3 linked regions of the Homo sapiens genome follow. The protein of the gene in region 2 purifies or fractionates together with the protein of the main gene of each other region. This does not show direct contact. Each region holds a gene or a part of one and is shown on either strand. Other genes may lie near its edges.

Evidence for each region. Proteins that work in one complex are often made in the same cells at the same time.
Region 1: the proteins of CEP72 (region 2) and AHCYL2 purify together in Homo sapiens (co-immunoprecipitation; 3 studies listed by BioGRID and IntAct, with this or other methods). This does not show direct contact.
Region 3: the proteins of CEP72 (region 2) and HOMER1 purify together in Homo sapiens (affinity purification with mass spectrometry; 2 studies listed by BioGRID and IntAct, with this or other methods). This does not show direct contact.

What each region holds. Positions count from the first base shown.
Region 1 is NC_000007.14:129,227,411-129,235,149, reverse strand, and holds part of AHCYL2 (adenosylhomocysteinase 3), read right to left. Parts: intron 1-7,739. UniProt on the Homo sapiens protein: May regulate the electrogenic sodium/bicarbonate cotransporter SLC4A4 activity and Mg(2+)-sensitivity. On the contrary of its homolog AHCYL1, does not regulate ITPR1 sensitivity to inositol 1,4,5-trisphosphate.
Region 2 is NC_000005.10:635,774-643,512, reverse strand, and holds part of CEP72 (centrosomal protein of 72 kDa), read right to left. Parts: intron 5,997-7,739; coding exon 5,695-5,996; intron 4,425-5,694; coding exon 4,289-4,424; intron 3,106-4,288; coding exon 2,909-3,105; intron 1-2,908. UniProt on the Homo sapiens protein: Involved in the recruitment of key centrosomal proteins to the centrosome.
Region 3 is NC_000005.10:79,392,015-79,399,753, forward strand, and holds part of HOMER1 (homer protein homolog 1), read right to left. Parts: intron 5,624-7,739; coding exon 5,513-5,623; intron 4,890-5,512; coding exon 4,809-4,889; intron 1-4,808. UniProt on the Homo sapiens protein: Postsynaptic density scaffolding protein. Binds and cross-links cytoplasmic regions of GRM1, GRM5, ITPR1, DNM3, RYR1, RYR2, SHANK1 and SHANK3.

The DNA.
Region 1 (7,739 bases), on a different chromosome or scaffold from region 2:
CTGCTAAGAGGTCCAAGAAGATGAGGACTGAAAAAAAAGACCCCCATGTTTCCCAATCTAATGGACATCAACAACTTTAGCAAGAGGGTTTTGTTTTGGTTAAACAGAATATTATAGCAGGAGTGAGTTAAGGAATTCATGAGAGGAAAAAAGCACATATAGCATGTACTGAAAACTCCTTTAAGAAGCATGCCTGTGAAAGAGAATAGAAAAACATGACAGCAACAGAAAATATGCAGGTCAAAGGACAGGGTTTTCAAAATGGGAGACAATAGGGCAAGTGTGAATTCTGAAGGAAAAGACCTAGTAGAAAGATGAAATAAACCAAAGGAAGAAATTCTTTAAGACAGGAGAGGCCAAGCACAGTGGCTCACACCTGTAATCCCAGCACTTTGGGAGGGTGAGGCAGAAGGACTGCTTGAAGCGAGGAATTCGAGGCCAGCCTGGGCAACAAAGTGAGACACCATCTCTACAAAAAGTTTTTAAAATGTGGCTGGGTGCAGCGGCTCATGCTTATAATCCCAGTACTTTCAAAGGCCAAGGAGGAAGGATCACTTGAAGCTGGGAGTTCAAGACCAGCCTAGGCAACATAGCAAGAGACCCCATCTTGGCCAGGTGTGGGCTCGCGCCTGTAATCCCAGCACTTTGAGAGGCCAAAGTGGGCAGATCACAAGGTCAGGAGTTCCAGACCAGCCTGGCCAACCTGGTGAAACCCCGTCTCTACTAAAAATACAAAAATTAGCCAGGCACAGTGGCGGATGCCTGTAATCCCAGCTACTTGAGAGGCCGAGGCAGCAGAATTGCTTGAACTCACGAGGCGGAGGTTGCAGTGAGCCGAGATAGTGCCACTGCAGTCCAGCCTGGGTGACAGAGTAAGGCTCCATCTAGGGGGAAAAAAGAGACCCCATCTCTACAAGAAAGTCATAAAAAAATTAGCCAGGTATGGTGGCATGCACCTATAGTCCCAGCTACTCGGGAGGCTGAGAAGGGAGGTTCTATTGAGCTCAGGAGGTTGAGGGTGCAATGAGCTATGACCACACCACTGCACTCCTGCCTGGGCTACAGAGTGAGACTTCATCTCTTGAAGAAAAATGAATGAAAACAAAGAGAAAGAGAGAGAAGAAAGATAGAAAAAGAAAGGAGGAGGAAGGGGGGAGGGGGAGAAAAGAATGATTACAGCACCTGTGAAGGGATTGGTCTTGACAGAATGAAGGAGAAAAAGATGAGTCCCAGATGCACATAGGTTTGTAGACTTGGGAGGTAAAAGAATGAAGGAATTCCCATTCAGCAGCTTCCATTTTTATAATGAGGCATAAAGCCTATGACTGGTTAAAAAAGAAGAAAATATGAGAGATTAGAAATAAGAGCTGGGCACGGTGGCTCATGCCCATAATCTCAGCACTTTGGGAGGCTGAGGAGGGCGGATCACGAGGTCAGGAGATTGAGCCATTCTGGCGAACACGGTGAAACGCCATCTCTACTAACAATACAAAAATTAGCTGGGCGTGGTAGTGCGTGCCTGTAGTCCCAGCTACTCATGAGGCTGAGGCAGGAGAATCGCTTGAACCCGGGAGGCGGAGGTTGCAGTGAGCGGAGATCGCGCCACTGCACTCCAGCCTGGGGACAGAGCAAGATTCCATCTCAAAAAAAGAGAAAAAGAAATAGAGACAGTAGGCCAGGCACAGTGGCTAATGCCTATAATCCCAGCACTTTGGAAGGGTGAGACAGGAGGATCACTTGAGCCCGAGAATTGGAGACCTGCAACATGGCAAGATACCGTCTCTACAAAAAAATAAAAAAATAGCCAGGCGTGGTAGCACACTTGTAGTTCTGGCTACTCAGGAGGCTGAGACAGGAGGATTGCTTGAACCAGGGAGTTTGAGGCTACAGTGAGCTGTGACTGTACCACTGCACTCCAGCCTGGGTGAGAGAGGGAGACCTTGTCTCAGTAAAAAAGAAAAGAGAAAGAGACAATATGAAGAAATAATTCGCAGTGAGCTGGAAAGTGAACTAGAGAAATGTATAACATTGCTAGGTAATGCTGATTATGCATATGAAATAGATGATTATAAATTTTTAATGACACTGATCTGTCTAATTTGCTGATTTTCTCTAGCAACTCTCAGCTCCATGAGTGCCAGCAACTAAGAAGGTAGATGGTTAGGTTCAACCCGTACATCACTCCAAGTTCTACAAGCAGCAGAAGTCAACACTGGCTGAATTAAACAGAAAAAGAATTTACAGAAAGGATATGAGGTCACTTTTTCAGTGAAGAACTTAAGTGCTACACAGCTAAAACAACACTCAAAATTACAGAACTGGGTTGGCAAAGATGTGATTGCTAATGCCAAGCAGGAGATGCTGCAGCTTGGTTTGCACCATCACAGTTCTGGATACTAAGTGCTAACACTTGCCACTGTTGCCCTTATAACTTGATCTTGCTGCTAGAGACTGATACTACATGTGAATCTGCTGATCAAGGAGGGGGATATTGTAAAGAACATGGTGGAACAGTTTGAGGGACTGAATCAGCTGAAGGATGAAGAGAGTGGTAAAGGAATTAGTATTGGGAAGATAATGGATGGCGGATGGCGGGTAGTGACTGAAACAAACAGGGATGTGAGGCATGGTGTTTAGGCCTCCCCTTGAAAGAGGCTAGATTGTGAGATCCAAAGTGGTCTTAGCAGCAGCTTAAGCAGACTTCAGTGGGAGTCTGGTCAGAGCAGCACGGGTGTTGGCACAGAGGCAAAGCTGCCCAATATTGCTATGGCCAGCATTTCATTGACAAAGCCTTGGACAAGTTAATTACTCTCTTTGAGCCTATATTTTCTTATCCATAATATAAAGATAGTACTACACATCTGATAAAGTTGTCATGAGGATTAAATACTAAGACAGAGATTCCTGACACGGAGTAAGTATTCAGTAAATGGTAGCAATTATAAGTGACACTGAAGCCAAGAGAAGAGTTTCCAAGAAAAGGTAGTCAATAGATGAAGTTTCACCTTGGAGCACTGTAGAATGTAAGTGTGTGCAGAGAAGATGAAGCTAGTTTTAGCCTCAGGTTTGCAACATTCAGAAAGGCTAAAGTCCTATACTCAGAGAAACTCAATCAGCAGTTCAAATACCCTTCCTTTATATAGGTTCTAAGCTAAGAACTAGGTGCCCCAAACCAATAGATTTCTACTGATAGACCCTTGAAAAAAAAAAAGAAAATAAAATCACCAGCTTTTAGTGCAAGCGTCCAAGAGGGAAATAGCTAACTGAACTGTTGCACGATACAGCTGGGGAAAAGGGAGACTGAAACCCATACAAATAATCATCTAATTTAATCAAAGTAATTTTAGAGTTGGGAACTGTTACAGAAGAAACGTCAATCCACTGCCGCTTTCTGCTCTGCTCTCACCAAATCGCAGGCCATAGGTCATTCAGACTATAAAAAGCTCCTACAAATTCCATAGAAATCTGATCAAGTTTACTAAACCTCTTGTTGGGTGAATGGAATTTCAGCTCCTCTAATTGTGTCTACCACCTAAACATGACAGCAGGGCAGTGGATCAGGGCAACTGCCAAGATTGTTCTCTTCCCATCTGCCTCAGTTGTACCTCTCTAAATTATTTAAACAAAAACCACCATGAAACAAACTGCATATTCTTTATAAACTTGACAAAGGGTCTGAATAAAGATTACAACAAACTTTTTTTCTCTCGTGGGGGAGGGAATCACTTCCAAGGAAATGATATAATAAACTCACTCTCCCTTTTTAATGAACTATCGATTTCTTCAATTAACTGGATACTGAGAATGTAGGTAGTACTAGTAGTAGTAGTAGTAGTAATTGTCTTCCTCAAGACATCAAACACACAACTGCAACTTCAGCTCCTAAAGCAGCTTTTTTTTTTCTTTTTTTTGAGACAGAGTCTCATTCTGTCGCCAGGCTGAAGCGCGGTGGCATGATCTCGGCTCACTGCAACCTCCACTTCCCGCATTCAAGCATTCAAGTGATTCTCCTGCCTCAGCCTCCTGAGTAGCTGGAACTGTAGGAGTGCACCACCATGCCCAGCTAATTTTTTGTATTTTTAGTGGAGACAGGGTTTCACCACATTGGCCAGGATGGTCTTGATCTCTTGACCTCATGATCTGCCCACCTCAGGCTGCTTTCTCAGAAAATAAATGCTCACAAAAACACACGGTAAGACCTTCAACCACGCAATAAATAAAAAGAAACTGTCAGTGCAATAACAAAAAAACTACCCAAAAAACACAGATTAAGATTTAGGGCCAGGCGTGGTGGCTGACGCCTGTAATCCCAGCACTTTGGGAGGCTGAGGCAGGTGGATCACGAGGTCAGAAGTTCACGACCAGCCTAGACAATATGGTGAAACCTCGTCTCTACTAAAAATACAAAAATTAGCCAGGCGTGGTGGCGTGCACCTGTAGTCCCAGCTACTCGGGAGGCTGAGGCAGAAGAATCACTTGAACCCGGGAGGCAGAAGTTGCAGTGAGCCAAGACCGCACCACTGCACTCCAGCCTGGGCAACAAAGCAAGACTCCATCTCAAAAAAAAAAAAAAAAAGATTTAGAAGGTTCATCCTGAGTTTCGAACAGAGTACTATTTGAATTGAAAAGCAACAGTTTAGGGCTCTGTTAGTTCCATCACATTACCGTGTAACCTTGAGACAAATTCCTTAATCTCTTCGACACTCAGTTTCTTCAATAAAACAAGGAGAACACTAGCTATCTTCGAGGCCTCTTAAAAGAATTAAATAGCCGGGCGCGGTGGCTCATGCCTGTAATCCCAGCACTTTGGGAGGCTGAGGCGGGTGGATCACGAGGTCAGAAGATCGAGACCACCCTGGCTAACTTGGTGAAACCCAGTCTCTACTAAAAATTAAAAAAATCAGCCGGGTGTGGTGGCACACACCTGTAGTCCCAGCTACTCAGGAGGGCAAGACAGGAGAATCGCTTGAACCCAGGAGGCGGAGGTTTCAGTGAGCCGAGATCGCCACTGCACTCCAGCTTGGGTGACAGAGCGAGACTTGGTCTCAAAAAAAAAAAAAAAAAAAAAAAGAATTAAATAAAACAGTATATGTAAAGCTCTAAGTACAATGCCTGGTATACAGTAGGAATATTCTTCCCTTTGCAATTTTCAAAAGCTCTTATCAAAGATTGACTCATAGAGATGGTGAGGCTTAAAGAATAGGGAAAAAGTGTTAGCTGAACAGGAAGAAAGGGTATATTCCTCAGGTACTCCAAATTTATTTATAACTTTTAAAATATGGATAAATTTCTCAGATTATCAGTAAATTACCAGTGTGAAGCTGCATCATTGATCTTGAAATGCTTTTCTGTATAAGATGCTTTTATTCTCCTCTTCTAAATTTACAATTCTTTCAAGTTCTACATTTGTACAATTTTCTCCCATCCTCTTCCTAAAGCTCTAACTCAGACCTGCCTTACTTTGGTCTTGGGATGACCTAAGCCTTAGCCAGACAGACACGCCTTAGAGTTCACTTAGTATTCTAAAAGACCTCTGGGAGAAAGCAAGAACTCAGCATCTAAGAAGTTAGAATCACTGTGGCATAATGAAAAGGACATGGGCTTTGGAGACGGACAGCCCTGGATTTAAGTTCTACCTCTGACACTTTCTAGATGTATAACCTTGGGCAAGGCACTTAACCTCCCAGGATCTCATTTCTGCATCTATAAAATGGAAATAATGCCACCTACATCTCATAGTATGGTTGTGAGGATTACAGAACCCCTATGACAACTCCTGGCACATAAAAGGCTAATGGCTCACATCTGTAATCCCAGCACTTTGGGAGGCCGAGGCAGGCAGGTCACCTGAGGTCGGGAGTTTGAAAGCAGCCTGACCAACATGGAGAAACTTCATCTCTACTGAAAATAGAAAATTAGCCGGGCATGGTGGTGCATGCCTGTAATCCCAGCTACTCAGGAAGCTGAGGCAGGGGAATCGCTTGAACCCGGGAGGCGGAGGTTGCGGTGAGCTGAGATTGCACCATTGCACTCCAGCCTGGGCACCAAGAGTAAAACTCTGTCTCAAAAAAAAAAAAAAAAAAAAAAAGGCTAATTATTGGTAACTATTATTACAGACCAACTGCCAATTGCCTTACTGAACACTTTTCAGAGCAGTACTCTTGTAACAGGCAAAAGGAGTCATACTGCTACCACATTCCCATGTCTTTATCCAAAACATTCCATTTTAGTACTCTATAATTAACCAAATCAAGAGCTTAAACAATTCAGGACAAGAAGTGCTAACATGGCTCAACTCATTCTCTCCTGACAGCAACAAAGCCAGTGGAAGGTGGATATGTTTGCCAAAAGCAATAAAGGGTCTGTTTGAACACGGTCATTACTGATACTGATGTAAGCACAATCTAGTTGAGGTTCTTGGGCTTGCAGCCTTATTGTCAGAAAGTTTTAATATTTCTGAAATAAATCCTCTCCTGCCTTGTTTTCCCTGCTGTGCGCCAACACTCCTATCACTCATTTTCAAGAACACAAGGAAGAAATCCCTTTCAGCTAGTACTACCTCATTCCCTGTGGAACTTACCTTCCCATTTCCCAAATTACTTCTTATAGAGATTTTTGGCTTGCTGGGTTCACTTGATGTCAACTTATGAAAAAGGACACTATAATTAAATATATCATAGCCACATAACATGATCTGGCCCCCAGAGCATCGCAAGTTACAGGACGGAGGCAGGTGCCAAAGATAAGATGTGATTGAGTAACCTGCACACCATATGTTCCTTCTTATTAACTACTGCACTTGGGAATTCTGGCTCTTGTAAAAAGTTTATTCCCCTTGTGTGGCTGAGCAGAGTAACAAAACTAAGAAAACTGATGATATGTGAATGAAGTAAGGAAAACCATCTATGGAAATGTGACTTAAAATAAATGTTTATACATGAAAGTTAAAAAACAAATGCAACAGTCACCAGTTCCACAGCCAAAGGCAGCTATTTCAATACTAGTATTCTCAGTTCCTTCATATGCTATAAGAAAAACAGTAAGGAGTCAAGGTCAAAGTGGTTATTTACATAGACAATCTAAGAATCAACAAAGGCTCAACAAATCAAAATGTCACACTGCAGTTCCTTGGTGAGATGACTTTCAACTTAGGGAAAGGGCAGTCTTGGGCACTTATTTTGATTTAGCCAATTCAATATCAAGAAGGTTAAAGATTGGGCACCTGAAAAGCAGCTCAGCAATGCCCTGAATTTCGTCATCCAGCTGTATCCTTGCCCAGAGCTTCACCTGCTTAACTTTCAGCAGAGAAGTTGTTTTTTTGGTGCAATTAACATTGTAAGGCAAGCTCAGCCCTGCTTTACAATAGCCTTGAGGCTGCTGAGTATATCTACAATCATGGAACATACATTTGGTGCTGAAAAAACAGGAAGATGGTTCAACGACAAGGAAAGTGGTCAAGAAGCACATCTAGAATTAAGAAAAACAGACTCCAGTATGCTGGTCTTTGATTTTTTAACTTTTTTTTTTTTTTTTTTTTTTTTGAGACAAGGTCTCACTCCAGCACCCAGGCTAGAGTGCTCATTGCAGCCTCAACTTCCTGGGCTCAGGTGATCCTCCCACCCCGGCCTCCTGAGTAGCTGGGACTATAGGCACACACCACCATGCCCGGCTCTTTTTTTTTTTTTTTTTTTTGGAGAGAGAGGTTTTCACCATGTTGCCCGGACTGTTCTCAAACTCCT
Region 2 (7,739 bases):
GCCCACCCGCCGACAGCCCCCTCAGCATGCATGCACCCGCCAGGCCCCCGACGCCCATGGTGAAAGCTGATCGCTGGGTCTGAGACCATTCCCCTCAGGCTTATCTTGGCCCGTTCTTCATTTCGCGGACTTCTCCCCAAGGTGTCTGCTGCAGTGGCGCCAACCAGCATGACCTGCCCTCCGCGCGGGGCTTTGGGTCGTCCAGAAAGCTCCTGGCAGTGCCACGTCTCATGGTTTTGCCTCCCAAGGATGCGGTGAGCTCTTAAGGCAGGGCTGTGAGCTCCCAGCTCTTTTTCATTTGTTTCTTTGAGGCAAAGTCTCCCTCTGTCGCACAAACTAGAGGGCAGTGGAGCAATCACAGCTCACTGCAGCCCCCAACTCCTGAGCCTCCTGCCTCTACCTCCCAAAATAGCTGGGATGACAGGAGTGTGCCACCACACCTAATTTTTTATTTTTTGGAGTCTAGGCCACGACAGGTGCAGGGAACAGAGGACCGACTGCACCCAAGCTGGGCGCAGCCCATCTGCCTCAGAGGCCGTGCCAGGCACAGCAGCTGGAAGTGGGGCCACCTTGCCTCAGGACACCCGACTGCAGCTTCCAAAGGAAGCAAGGTCTAGGTTCATGTGACCGAGGGATGAGCGTCCTCACGTGGCAGAGTAAACTTGGGTGCTTCTGGAGTGACAGATGTGGGCCTCCCTGGAAAGCAGTGCCCACCAGCCTGCACGGCTGCTCCCTCCGCGGGGTTCCTGACGGTGCTGACTGCTCCTTACCCGCGGGGCTCGGGCTGCCAGATTCTTCTGGATCACTCACCCTGACAGGGAACCAGGGCTGCTCTGTCCAGAGGCCCAGGGCTGCCTGCAAACTGCAGGGGTTAGGCAAACTGCAGAGGGCAAAAAAGCAGGCGTCCACGGCAGCCACAGCTGCATGTGACTCTCACCCCTGGCAGCACTGGTGCTCGGCACACCTTTGGGCTCCGCCTGTCAGCTCTGTCTCGTCCCAGGCTCAGAAGGGCAAGGGGTGTGCCTGACTGTGTCCCACAGAAAAGACATCATCAGTGACGGCGCCCAGCTCACTTTCCAGACAGCCGGTCACGTGTGTTTCAGTATAAAGGCTTCCAGACGGGGGGCCACACGTGTTTAAATATAGAGGCTTCCAGAGAAGGGGCCATGTGTGCTTAAATCCAGAGGCTTCCACCAGATGAGGGGCCATGTGTGTTTAAATACAGAGGCTTCCAGAGGAGGGGCCACGTTGGTTTAAAAGCAGAGGCTTCTGGACGGGGGACCACGTGTGCTTAAATGCAGAGGCTTCTAGATGGGGGACCACGTGTGTTTAAATGCAGAGGCTTCTAGACGGGGGACCACGTGTGTTCAAATGCAGAGGCTTCTGGACGGGGGACCACGTGTGTTTAAATGCACAGGCTTCTGGACGGGGGACCACGTGTGCTTAAATGCAGAGGCTTCTAGACGGGGGACCACGTGTGTTTAAATGCACAGGCTTCTAGACGGGGGACCACGTGTGCTTAAATGCACAGGCTTCTAGACGGGGGACCACGTGTGTTCAAATGCAGAGGCTTCTGGACGGGGGACCACGTGTGTTTAAATGCACAGGCTTCTGGACGGGGGACCACGTGTGTTTAAATGCACAGGCTTCTGGACGGGGGACCACGTGTGCTTAAATGCAGAGGCTTCTGGACCGGGGACCACGTGTGCTTAAATGCACAGGCTTCTAGACGGGGGACCACGTGTGCTTAAATGCACAGGCTTCTGGATGGGGGATGGGGGGCCATGTGTGTTTAAATGCAGAGACTTCTGGACGGGGGATGGGGACCCACGTGTGTTTAAATACAGAGGCTTCCAGATGGAGGAGGCCCACATGTGTTTAAATACAGAGGCTTCCAGATGAAGGCCACGTGCAGAGGCTTCCAGGCGGGGTGGGGGGGCCACGTGCGTTTAAACAGAGGCTGCCTGTGTTGTTTTGCTGTGTTTTTCTTCTCTAAAGAGGAAGCGTTGTGTGGGATCTCTGAGATGTTGGTTCCCATGAAACGGACAGTATGTACTTGTCAGACAAGTTCAGAGGCAGTTTTCGAAGCCGTCCCGGGCCGACTTCACTCGCAATTTAAAGATGCTGACAAGGCCCCTCTGGATGTGCACATCCTCACGTGGCTCTGCCCTCACACCAGGACTCCCGGAGGGCGGCTTCTGCCTGGGTGTGGCTCTCTGACCACCAGCTCCCTGTGCTAAGGATGCCAGCAGCCCGTGGGGAGGCCCTTGCAGCGTGGAGGGAGCCTGGGAGGATCCTGTCCCGTGAGGCCTCAGATGAGACGGTGGCCCCAGCCCACGGCTGAGACAGAGCCCCCATGAGGCCTCAGATGAGACGGCGGCCCCGGCCCACGGCTGAGACGGAAGGAGGGAGCCTGGCTGAGCTGAGCCTGAGGCCCAATACACAGAAATCCAAGGTGATAAATGCAGGTTTTCAGCTGCTGGTTTTGGGGTAACTTGCCCTGTAGCCCCAGCTCACCATGGGACACTGGCCGTCATCTCCTTCATAAAAGGAGAGTGGCCTCGGTTTTCCCCAGTTCGAGGCCCTGAGAGATGGGTCAGCAAGACAAAGTCACGTCCAGGCCTGGCTCCTGCAGCACCCGGCACTGCCCAGTGGTGGAGGGTCCCTTGGGCCCGGGGAGAGAAGGTGGCCAGCGCCACTGCTGTCTCCAAAGTGCTCCAGGCCTGTTGTGAGACAGGGCAGGCCGCGTTCCGGGGGTGGCCGGGTCCCGGGCAGGGAGTGGAGACATGGGGCTGCAGAGATGGCAGTTGGGACAGTGTGGCATCAAGGAGCTGCCCTCGTTCCTGGAAGTCAGAGCCATGTTTCCCCCAGTCACATGGACACAGACACAGCGCCAGGGCGGGCTCACCAGCTCCTTGTGTGTGTGGTGCAGCTCCGCCGTCACCTCGCTCATCTCCCGGGCGTGCTGCTGCTGCTGCTCAGCAAGGCGGCTTTGCAGGGACTTACTCTCCAGAGCCAGGGAGCCGACATCTTCACCCACCATCGCAGAGCTGTCCTGAGCTGCTGTGAATTCTTCAACAGATGACAAGATGTGTCTTGCCTGAGCTAGGAGTGAAAACCAAATATTACATTAGCACTTAGGCTTAAAGGATGAAATGTAAACAAAATCGGCTCAGTATGTTTTGAATCACACAGACGATGCCTCAAAAAGACGACAGGTAGGGAGAGGGGAAAGGGGTGTTGGCGCCACAAAACCACCTCAGGCTCTGTGCGTCCACACACGGGCAGGGTGGGAACTGAAGAAAGAGAAGAGGTGACCTCCAAGAAAAGGGGCAACCAGGGGCCGCCACGTCTCAAGGTTTCAGTGGCGCCGCCACAACTCGCTGCGCCTTCCACAAGCACCGACTGCCCTGTGTGGAAACCACCATGCAGACGACAGCTGGCAACTCCACACTGGGACAGTGGCCTGGGCCTGGGACAGTCCCCCCGCCACCGACGATGGCAAGCTCAGGAGGCTCCCACAGGACACCAGCCTAGGGAGAGGGGAGGTTTATGGGGCTGGGGTCCAGGTGGGCTGCGACTGCAGGGCGTCCTCATTCTAGGAGCTGAGGGGCTATAACACTGCAAGGCGCAGTCAGACAGCTCAGAGCCGTGCCCAGGGTCTGCGGGGAGAAGCACACTGGCTAGGCTCCTGAGGGACACACACAGCCACACCCCAGGATGCAGGACAAAGAGAAGGTGCCCCTGGGGACGCGGCATCTCCTGGTCTCCCAGTGTGATCCTGGATGAGGGAGGCCCCAGTGTGCTCATGTACGGGTTGCCTGGTAGAATCCAACAGACCCAAGTCCTCTCTGGGGAGGGACCACCCTCCTGGGTCCCACACCAACCAAAAGCTCTGCAATCCAGGCCCAGCACAGGCTACACGTCTGGGTCGGGGGAGAAGATGCTGAGCAGCTTCCAAACTCCAAATCCCCATGTGATCACAGCCATCAGAACCAAGCCCCTTTGGACAGCATTTTGAGCAAAATGAGGTGACAGGCCCCCCAACACCCCAGAGCACAGCGGGGGACCCACAGGCCCAGGCCCATGTGGTGTCTCCCGAGAGCCCTGGACACTGTGAGATGCAAAGACTGCCAGGGAGGGCCCAGGCGCGGGACCACCACACGCTCGTGGGAGGGGACATAGGAGACCTGGGGCTGAGATGACTCCTAGGTCACCACACGCAGAGGACCCCGGAACCCACACAGACGCTGCCTACAGGGCAAGAGCAGTGGCCGCCCTGACTCACCAAGGAATGCCTCGTTGCTGTGCAGGGACCTGCAGCCGCCCCAGCTCCTGTCCACCAGGTCCAAGAGCGTCTCCAGGAGCGCCGCCTGCAGGGCCGTCTTCTTCCCGGGTAGAGCCGAGTGTGACCCGGGAGACGGCTGTGATGGAAACAACAGCATGAGGCCAGCGAGTCAGTAACTGAGGTCCTGAATGCCAGCAGGTGCCCAAGCGCACCCTGGGATGCCCTCGCACCACGAAGGGGAGGACAGGTGCCCTGAGGCCCCAGCCCTGAGCCAGGTGGAGGGCGGCTCAGCAGTGCCTGCCCAGTGAGGCTTAGCCAGGTGCACCGGTCCTGGATGAGTGAGGTCTCGATGACAGGACAGGACGGGGCCCACACATTCCCAACTCAAGCAGGCCCCAGACTCCTCCCCTCAACCCAGACAGGGAAGCGGAAGACACATCCAGGCCGCAGTCAGAGCCTGTGTTCAAAAGGAGCTGCCCAGGAAGCAGCCTGCACCCACAGTCAGGCTGGTAGAGGGTGCCAGGCGCTGTCCCCAGCAATGGCCCGGAGTCAAACAATAACCCTGAAACAGACCGCCCACCTCCCCCATCTCTGCCTCCTTCCAGCTCAGGACCTGCCGGGGACGTCAAACACGCCCCACCCAGCTCTGGGACCCCCCCCCACCCCATGCTGCTACGGAGCTGCCTCTAGCTCCGGCCATGCCTCCCTTCCTGTCCCACAGTTCCGCACCTTCAAGCTCCTCTGCCTGCATGGGAGTCTGAAGCCCTCGTTGTGGCAAGTACCAAGTGAACAGCCCCTGCCTGTTCCCTTCTGGGTGGTCTGCACTCATGTCTACAGCAGGTGTGTCTCAACGCCTCTGACTGGGCCTGCGCCAGTTGTCCCCCTGACCTCTAGGTCACCCTGAGGGTGGAGTGACTCGGTCTCTCATCACAGCGACCTCCAGGATCCTCCCCTCACGAAAGGGTCATCAATGGCTCAGCCGGCCAAGATGCCCGATTCCAGCTTTGGAGACAAATGCCCTGTGCACCGTAAGGCAGAGTCCCCTCTCTCCACCACGGGGCTTCCACTCAGAACAGCAGCGCAGGACAGCGTGTGGCACAGAGGCACACGTCCAACAAAACGCAGCAGCAAGCACCCTGGAACCCTAAGTGTGATGATTCCCTTTATCCTGGGACACGGTCAGTGCCGTAGGCGTAATCACGGCACCGCCAAAGCCGTAACAGCCCCGCATCAGGGAGGGACACGGTCAGTGCCGTAGGCGTAATCACGGCACCGCCGTAACAGCCCTGCATCAGGGAGGGACACAGTCAGTGCCGCAGGCGTAATCACGGCCCCGCCAAAGCCGTAACAGCCCCACATTAGGGAGGCAGTGCCGTGGGCCTGCTGCTCCCCAGCCCTTCTCTCACCTCTCTGGTGTCGGTCACACCCCGAGACCTCTGCTCCTCAGTCTCCGAGGCCTCAGGCTGAGACAAGGTCCTCCCGTTCCTGCTTTCTGAGCTGTCCTGTCTGCTCAGGCTCTCCTTGGGCACGGAGGACCCATGAGTTCTCTCCGGGCAGCCCAAACCCTCCTGGTCCGAAAACGTCTGGAATCTTCCAACAGGCATTCTTCGCTTCCTGCACTTTCCGGGGGCTGGCAGGGGACCAGGCACCATTTCTCCTGACAAATCCAACTTCTGAGAAGAGGCCGAGTCCTCGGTATCCATGGAGTCTGAGATATAGAGAGGATGGGGCGCACGTCAGGCCAAATTCTCTGGGTGCAGTGTTCAGCACTGTAACTTTTAAAAGGCATGTGTGTGCCCATGTATATACACACATGGACACACACGCACACTTACATATGTACACGCACACCTATCCACGTGCATACATACATCCATACACCTGCACAAAGGCACATGCAGAGGGAGGGTGCCGAGGGAAGAAAGGGGCATACTGGGGCACACGTGCTAACACGCAAACTCTGGGGGAGTCTGGATGAAGCAGACACGGACCGCCCAGCTTCGCGTGTTCACCCCGTGATGACCGACGTGCAGTACGCTTCAACAACGCGTTCCAAACAACGTCTAAGCACACGCCCATCTCTGAAGACAGGTGAAGTGACAGACTCTGATGGTCCGTAAAGTGGTGGGTCCCGTGCACTGTACCGACCACTAAGCCCCCAGGACACACAAGACCCGGGGGAAGGCAAACTTGTCTGTGGAAGGACAATGAAGGCAGGAGAAGGCACAAAACGGGCACAGCCTTGGCCTCCACCACAGCCTGCTCAACTCAAGATGACCCATCACATCCTGCAGCGGCTGACAGACAACCTGGCTAGGTCCCCTGCCTCTCACCAGTTGGGCATGAGCAAGCTTCCAGGAGGCGCCAGGGTCACGCGAGACAAGGTTTCTCTTTTTCTTTTTTTTTTTTTTTTTTGAGTTGGAGTCTTGCTCTATTGCCCAGGCTGGAGTGTAGTGATGCCATCTAGGCTCATTGCAACCTCCACCTCCCAGGTTCAAGCGATTCTCATGCCTCAGCCTCCTGAGTAGCTGGGACTATAGGTGCCCGCCACCATGCCCAGATATTTTTGTATATTTAGTAGAGACCTGGTTTCACCATGTTGGCCAGGCTGGTCTTAAACTCCTGACCTCAAATGATCCGCCTGCCTCGGCCTCCCAAAATATTGGGATTATAGGCGTGAGCCACCGTGTCTGGCCTGCTCACGGCAGGAGGTTTTCTGATACTTATGCCACATAGGTGGCCATCACATGGTATCACGTGACACTCTTGGTTAACTTTTCTCGCCTTTGATTTTCAAAATGTAGCTATTGCCATAACCTGGGCCCATACACTTAAAAGTGTGTGTGCATTAGTGAGAGGGTGAGGGAGGGTGTGCACACACACACGTGCAGAGAAAAAGCACTTATTTACCAACCATGAATCTAAACCATGAATGGATTATAAATTTCAATGTGCTGCATTCTTTCCAAAGACATTTTGGAGAGTTCCACAAACAAATAAATACACAGAGAACAGGAGAAATTTCATAGTAAAAGCAAACGATGTGAAAAATATTTAACTACTTAAAAAGGAACTGAAGGGAGTAAAAGTTGACAGGGATTTCATGTTGCTGTAGTTCGAAGGAACCCCCCAAAGTTCCTAAGCTGGAAACTTATTGCCACTCTAACAGTATTAAGCGGAGGGCCTTTAAGAGGTGAACAGGTCACAGGGCCAGCCCTCAGGGAGGCAGGAATGCTGTAGCACAGGGCTGGGTTCCTGATAAAGGATGAGTCTGGAACAGGTCACAGGGCCAACCCTCAGGGAGGCGGGAATGCTGTATCGCAGGGCTGGGTTCCTGATAAAGGATGAGTCTGGAACAGGTCACAGGGCCAGCCCGCAGGGAGGCAGGAATGCTGTAGCGCAGGGCTGGGTTCCCGATAAAGGATGAGTCTAGCTCCATTTCTCTGTCTTG
Region 3 (7,739 bases), about 79 Mb from region 2:
CTCATGTGTTTGTGGTGATGCCGATATAAATAAATCTACCGTGCTGTCAGCTGTATAAATGCATAGCACATACAATTATGTATAGTACATAATACTTAATAAAAATAAATGGCCATGTCACTGGTTTATATATTTATTATACTATACTATTTATTACTATTCAAGTTATTTTAGAGTGTACTCCTTCTACTTATTTAAAAAAACATTAATTATCTGACAGCCCCAGGCAGGTCCTTCAGGGGGTATTCCAGAAGAAGGCATTGTTATCATAGGAGATGACAGCTCCATGCCTGTTATTGCCCTTGAAGACCTTCTAGTGGGACAAGATGTGGAGGTAGAAAACAGTGATATTGATGATCCCAACCTTGTGTAGGCATCAGCTAATATGTGTGTTTGTGTCTTCGTTTTTTAAAAGAAGTTTAAAAAGTTTTAAAAACATTTTTTAATAGGAAGAAAGGTTACAGACTAAGGATATAAAGAAAATAGTTTTCTACAGCTGAATACATGTTTATGTTTGCAGCTATTACAAAAAAGTAAAAAGTTAAAAAAATTTTAAATGTTTATGAAGTTAAAATGTTACAGTAAGCTAAGGCTAATTTATTATTGAAGAAATAACATTTTAAAAAATAAATGTAGTGTAGTCTAAGTGCAGTGTTGATAAAGTCTACAGCAGTGTATGGTAATATCTTAGGTCTTCAAATTCACTCACCACTCACTCACTGACCCACCCAGAGCAACTTCCAGTCCTACAGTTCCATTCATGATAAGTGTCCTATTCAAGTGTACAATTTTTACCTTTTCTACTGTATTTTTACTGTACCTTTTCTATCGTTTCTACTGTATTTTTACTCTACCTTTTCTGTGTTTAGATGTGCTTAGATACAAATACATGAATACTTACCACTGTCTTACGAGGGAGGGAGGGAAAAGAAGGGAAAGGGAGAGAGAGAGAGAGAGAGAGAGAGAGAGAGAGAAGAGAGCCATCCAGAATAAAACAAAGCAAATATAGCCAAAATGACATTTGGGGAATGTAAGTAAAGGGTATATAAAAAATTTCTGTATTATTCTTGCAACTTTTCTGTAAGACTGAAATTATTTCAAAATAAAAAGTTTAACTAAAGAACTTATTTATGTAACCAAACACTGCCTGTTCCCAAAAACCTATTGAAATAAAAATAAATAGCTTAAAAACAAAATAGAAATAAAAAACAAGATCATTTCAGCTAGTGATAAGTACTAAAAGGAAAATAAAAAATGGTAATACTACAAAAAATACCTGGGATGGGGTGTGGGGACTGTAGCATAGTCCTTAAATTGGGAAGTCAGAGAAATTAACATCTGAACTAAGACCTAAACTAAAAATAGAAGCCAGCCATCTGAAGATTTGGGCAAAGAATTCCAGGCAAAGATATTCCACATGCTCTAAGGTGAAAATGCACTCGTGACTTCAAGATACAGGTAAAGACTAAATGCATGTGAAAAATTGTTCAATGTTATTCATAATTTAAAAATTAACTAAATAGTTGAGTCACTTCATTTCTTAAGAGATGGCAAAGAACGGGTCCAGGGGGTACCAATATCCAGTGGGTACCCTGCTTTTCCAGATGTCAATTTCCCAGCATAAGAAATTTTAAAACATTGACACCAAGCAATTCTTGTTTGAAAGTTTATCTTAAAGAAATAATCAGAAAGGCAAAGATTTATGAAAAAGGTTGTAATATTATTTATTTATAGCATAACACTGGAAACAACATAAACTGCCATTACTATAGGAATGCTGGAAGAAAACTATGATACCTCTATATGGGAGAATTCTATGCAGCCATTGGGCTTATGACATAAAGTTAGATAAAAATGTATACAAACAAAAAATGGTATCTATATCCATCTCTTATAAAGAAAATATTATCTAAACCAACACTGGGACAAGGAAATGCCAGTTACCTTGCCTTAAGATGACAGGATTATGATTTTTTTAATATTATGGAATTATGATTTTATACTAACCTTGCTAAGTACATTTTTTGAAATTTTTCTAATTTTTTTTACAATGGGCATGTTTTTCATAGACATTTATAACAGAAATATCCAAATATTGCCAAATATCAAAAACTCATAAATTAGAAAAACTGTAGCACGGTATCCTTAATTTACCAATAACTATACATTTTCTATCCACATTCAACTCTAAATACTAATCCAACTCTAAATACTGCAATTTCAGGATTCTTTTCCAAGGAATTTAATGATCCCAATTTTCTGTACTGAACTTATGAATGGAGTTCAAGGGTGCTGGGACCTTTGATAAACAGGAGATGTTTCTGTGGGAGGGAGAAGGCTGCAGAGGAGGAAATTTCTTTGAATTGGAAAAAATATGTTATTTTCTGTAGCTTGTTCTTTTAGAATTCATCCTCAGGTTTTCTAAAAGCTTCCCTGTCCTGTTCTAGGTAGGTTGTTTTGATAATATTTTTGATATTCAGTGAAAGGATGGGTAAGAATTATATTCACAATTTCAAGTGCCAGCTATAAAATTCAATTACTGCTCTATCAATGATGAAATCCATTCATTCATACATTTATTGAGAAAGGGTCTCATTCTGTCACCCAGGCTGGAGTGCAGTGGTGTGATCATAGCTCACTGCAACTCCCAACTCAAGCGAGGCTCAAGTGATCCAAGCAGCTGGGACTACAGGTGCACACCACCACTCCCAGCTAATTCTACTGTTTCATTTTTTTGTAGATGCAGCATTTCGCTATGTTGCCCAGGTTGGCCTTGAACTCCTGGCCTCAAGAGATCTTCCTGCCTCAACCTCCCAAAGCACTGGGATTATAGGCATAAGCAACTATGCCTGGCTTCAAATACATTTAGAATTATCAACATTAGAAATTTGATATAAATATATCATCTCTTTGTTTCTCTTCATAAGTGAGACAATGTAAATGTGTATATAACTGAAAATACTTTTTAAAAGAATCATTAAGGATGACTTGACTGTTTGTTGCTTGAAGAAGTGTGGTAATGCAGAAAGAACGGACTTTGGAATAAAATAAATCTAGGCCTCATTACTTTCTAGCTAAGTGCCTTAATTAAACTTGTTAACACCTTTGAACTGCTGTCTTCTCTTTGAAAATGGGGATACCTCACCTGCTACTGTGAGAATTAGAGCTAATGTAAGTTAAGTGCTTAACATATGCTTGAATCATCGCAAGTACCCGAAACCCAAAACAAACGAAAGACAAAACTTGACTGAATTTCCCCCTTTCTTCCAGCCCTGATTCCATGCTTCATATTTAAGTTCTACATCAGGATTTCTCAACCTTGGCATTATTGACATTTTGGGTTGGATAATCTGATTCTTAGCAGCATCTCTGGCTTTGTCTACTAGATATCAGTGGCGCTCCACTAATTGTGAAAATAAAAAATGTTTGCACACATTGCTAAATGTCCCCTGGGCTTCAAAAGTGCCCCAAGTTGATGACCACTAATCTATATAGACGACTAAAATATACAAACGGCATTTAATAGGGCCAACCAAAACAAGTGATCTCATTTTTCCCAGACTACTGAAAGCCAGTGATGGGAAGGGGAGAGGTAAATATTCCATTTTATATAAGGAATCTGTTTATTTCATGAAGGATTATTATGAAGGGGTTTAAAGCCCATGTCTTTGACTACTAAAATAATGTATTTTGACCATTATCTTAGTGGTCAAAGATTTGGATTTTAAAATTTGACTGTCTCCATTTAAATATAGGTTGGACAAGTTAACCTCTCCAAGCTTCAGTTTCTTCATCTGGGTTATTATGACTGTTACATGGATTAAATGCATAATACAGGTAAAGTGCTAAGCCCAGTGTCCGATATGTTGCAAGCACTCAATAAATGTTGGCTGTTCTTATTATAATCTAGGTCCTCTTTCCAATCCTGGGCTTTCAGGTCCCTCTTATTATGCCTTATCTCAGATTCCTCACTCTATACATATACTTATTTCTACTCCAAAGTCATCCTAACCCTTCTTTATTGAGGCACCTAACGCTGAGGGTGTAAGAAAACTGCCTGAGCTGGCAAGAGAAGACTTTGGTAATAAATTCTGAGAAATCTTCCCTTACCATGTCTGACTATCACTGACACATGATGTTTTTTGTACACTGGAATCAGGAAGAATACTATTTATGCAGAAAAAAGTGAGTAAAATTAATTACACTGAAGAACGAAAAGTACTAACTTGTGTTCCATTAGGGCACAACTATTGGTATAATTCATACATTAGTACATTGTAAAATAATAATAATAATAATAATAATGTTCCCAAATTGAATGAAATCAATTTGCAAATTTTTCTTTAAATTCAGGGTTTTCTTTCTTTCTCTCTCTCTTTCTTTTTATTAAGACAGGATCCCACTCTGTTCCAGGCTGCAGTATAGTGGTGTGATTATGACTCATTGCAGCCTCAACCTCCTGGGCTCAAGTGATCCTCCTCCTCAGCATCCCAAAGTGCTGAAATTACAAGTATGAGCCACCATGCCCAAACCCAGAGTATTTTTTTTTAATTAAAAGTAGAAATTTCCAAAAGGATTTACTAAATAATTTACAATTTATAAATGACCATCTATGATAATTATAAGCTACATAGATGAAGTTATCAAGTAACTTTTTAAAAATCAAAGATTAGGCATGAATCAGAAGTCCCGGAAAAGAAAAATGACCAAAAACCTACAAAATGGAGTCTCAGAAAAAAAGTCAGTGCTATGTGAAAAAATGATGCCTTTCTATGCAGAAGTGAATAACAATTTTTACTACAGCTCACCTGTAGTTTCTGAGTCAAAGAATCCCTCTGTTCTTGTAGTTCTCTGGCATTATCAATTTCTTGTTTTAACCTTTCTATTTCCTAGAAAAGACAGAGCAATGTCTTAACATTCAAACTATATCAAGGCAAGGGAAGGTCTTGTTTTTCCCTGAAATTATTGTTCTAGTTCTTAGAAAAAGATGATTTTAAAAACATTCCTTCATATTGACTTTTAGAGGGATGAATTCATCTTTATATGTATGTTGTCTAGAACAATAATCTTAAGCAACAGCAACAAGTCTAACTTGGTGCTTCTGGTACAGCAATGCTTAGAAATAACAACCTGAACATTTTAATGTTGCTTCAAGCTTTGTGGATATAATTCTTTCCTAAGATATTAAAGTTTTGACTGGAACCCAGAGAAACCAACAGCTTTTAAAATCCATTTAACCCCTAATGATTTTCTGTTGACTGTATAAATGCAACTCTCATCTGGAAGGCAACAGGTGGTATCTCGGTCTGACTGCCTCACCACAGTTCATAATAACAGAAATAAGGATAGAGAAAATATGAGCAAGCTTAATACCACTCAAGAAAAATTTCATCCTAAAAAAGAGGTCACAACCTGACTTTATTCCATAAAATACTTTTAAATTTGACATGGAATCTAATACTTTGTACAAACATGTTAGCTAGATTACAGATGAGTAAAAAGCAGCAAATACCTCTTCCTTCAGTTTCAGTGTCTCTTCCAGTTCTTGTATTGTCTGATTTAATTCTGTCTTATGAGTATGTACTGCATTTGCTTGGCTACTAACACATTCAAGTTCAGTCACCTAAAATTAAATGAGAACACAGATTAACTTAAATTTCAACTTTAAAGAGTTTCTTGCTAAATACATAGCCCCAAATAAGTGAATAGTATATTCTGAATAAATATATAAAAATTAATTTTGAGAAATATTAAGACACTCAAGGTAGAGTGAATAGATTCTTCAAAGATATAAAACTAGGAAAAGGGAAAAATAATCATTTACATGGCTTAGTCATAGAAAGGTTAGGATAACTTAAATTAAGTGATTAATGACAGTAGAGAATCCCTATAATGAAAGTCTTCTGTAAAAATTTCTTCCAAAAACATATTCAAGATCAGATATGACCATCTGTCCTTCATCTGTAGCCTTCAAATTCAATATGGGTTCTGAAAACTGGCCTTGCAGAAGTGAGAATTTTTTCAAATACATTTCCAACATGTAAGAGAATCTGGAAGAGAAAATAGGCTTAAAATACAACTTAAATCATTAGATACTGGAATGACTTTACATCAACAGTGTCTCTTACGGGTAAGATAAAATTTTGTTAGTCAATAAGAATTTACTGGGGGCCCAAAGAGTAATATAACTTTTAATGAGCACTTGGTATTTTTTGAGAGAACAGAGAGGGGCACTGTCCTTCAAGTTATACCATCTAAAACTAGAATCAGCAATAGACAGAAGTCAATATAAATACACACACACACACACACACACATGCACACACACACCCTATCACAGTTCTTTACATATATCATGTGCTCATAAAATTTTGGTTTACTAGAAGATAGTAAATTCTAGACTATTAAAGAAACAGAGTAAATCCCTCTCCCTGGCATTTTCCAAATATCAAATTACCCTCTACATTCTGTGATTCTCTCTCTTATATAATTTTCTTCCTTTCTTCTCATGTACTAATAGCCTCGTTACAAACCCTTATCATCCAGACCTGAACAAAACCAACAGCCTCCCAGTGGACTTAATTATAATCTTTTTTTTGTCTATTCTGCAAATTGCTAAGATTCATCTTTCATTCCTGTGATTCCACCATTCAAAGACTTTCAGCAGCTCATCTTTTTTACGGTATCAGATCTAAACGCTCAGATCCTCTGTATATTGGCCCCAACCTTCTCAACCATCCACACTGCCCAAGATACTCAGTGAGTACTTCCAACTAAAAGCAGGCAAATCTCCTTGTCCTAAGAACAAGTGATATTCATTCCCAACTTGTTGATTTAACTAGAATGTCCTCTCTTGCCTCTGAAAACCACTCGGACCTAACCGAACCCTTAACTCTTAGCTCAGCATGTGCTTTCTCCAGAAAGCCATTCCTATCTGCTCAAGTCTTCAAGGCTCTCCTCTGGTTCACAAAACCAAGCATCTGTTCAAAAATCTTGGGAATTATTTCACTTATTGTTTAATGTGTATTTGTTTTGTCTCATTATATAATAAATTCCTTAAAGGGAGTTCCAATTCTGATAATGATGAAATAGTTTTTATTGGAGTAACTTTCCTATAGGTAACAATTGCAAATTGTGGGCAAAATGTAAAAGTCAACTGTTTGAAGGACCTGGTGAGTAACCAAATTGGGCAAAAGACTGCAAGAAAGCAGTCACTTTGGGTGATTTCCACATCTTTTTGCCTGAAGGTACTCTGCAGTCTGGCTGCATTGCTTGACTGAACAAGCAGAAATCCATAGTCTTATTTCTCTGAGAAGCCTGAGAATTTTAGGACTCTGCAGAACACCTGGCACAACTAGGAGTAGGAAAAGAGCTGGAAGGCTGAAAGAACTAAACTGCGATGGTGCTCAACAGAGATGACAGTTTGAAGTTCTGCTAGTCCCTGCTAAATTAGAGGGCCTTGGTAAATACCTCAAGCTTTGCAGTGAAACTTTGGAAAGGGTTATGTCTTAGAGATAAAGATTTCCTAGGACAATGTGATTTACCCTAGGGTTACAGCAAAATTGAAATACATGAATTCTAACAAAGCATAAGTACACAACTCCACAAATTCAAGATAATCTCCAAATAACTGCCTGTTGAAACAAAAACTCAACATTATTCAAAAATAACAAAATCTGTGGTCTCTACAACATCTCATTTGCAATGTCCAATACAAAATTAAAAATGACTAGTCATTT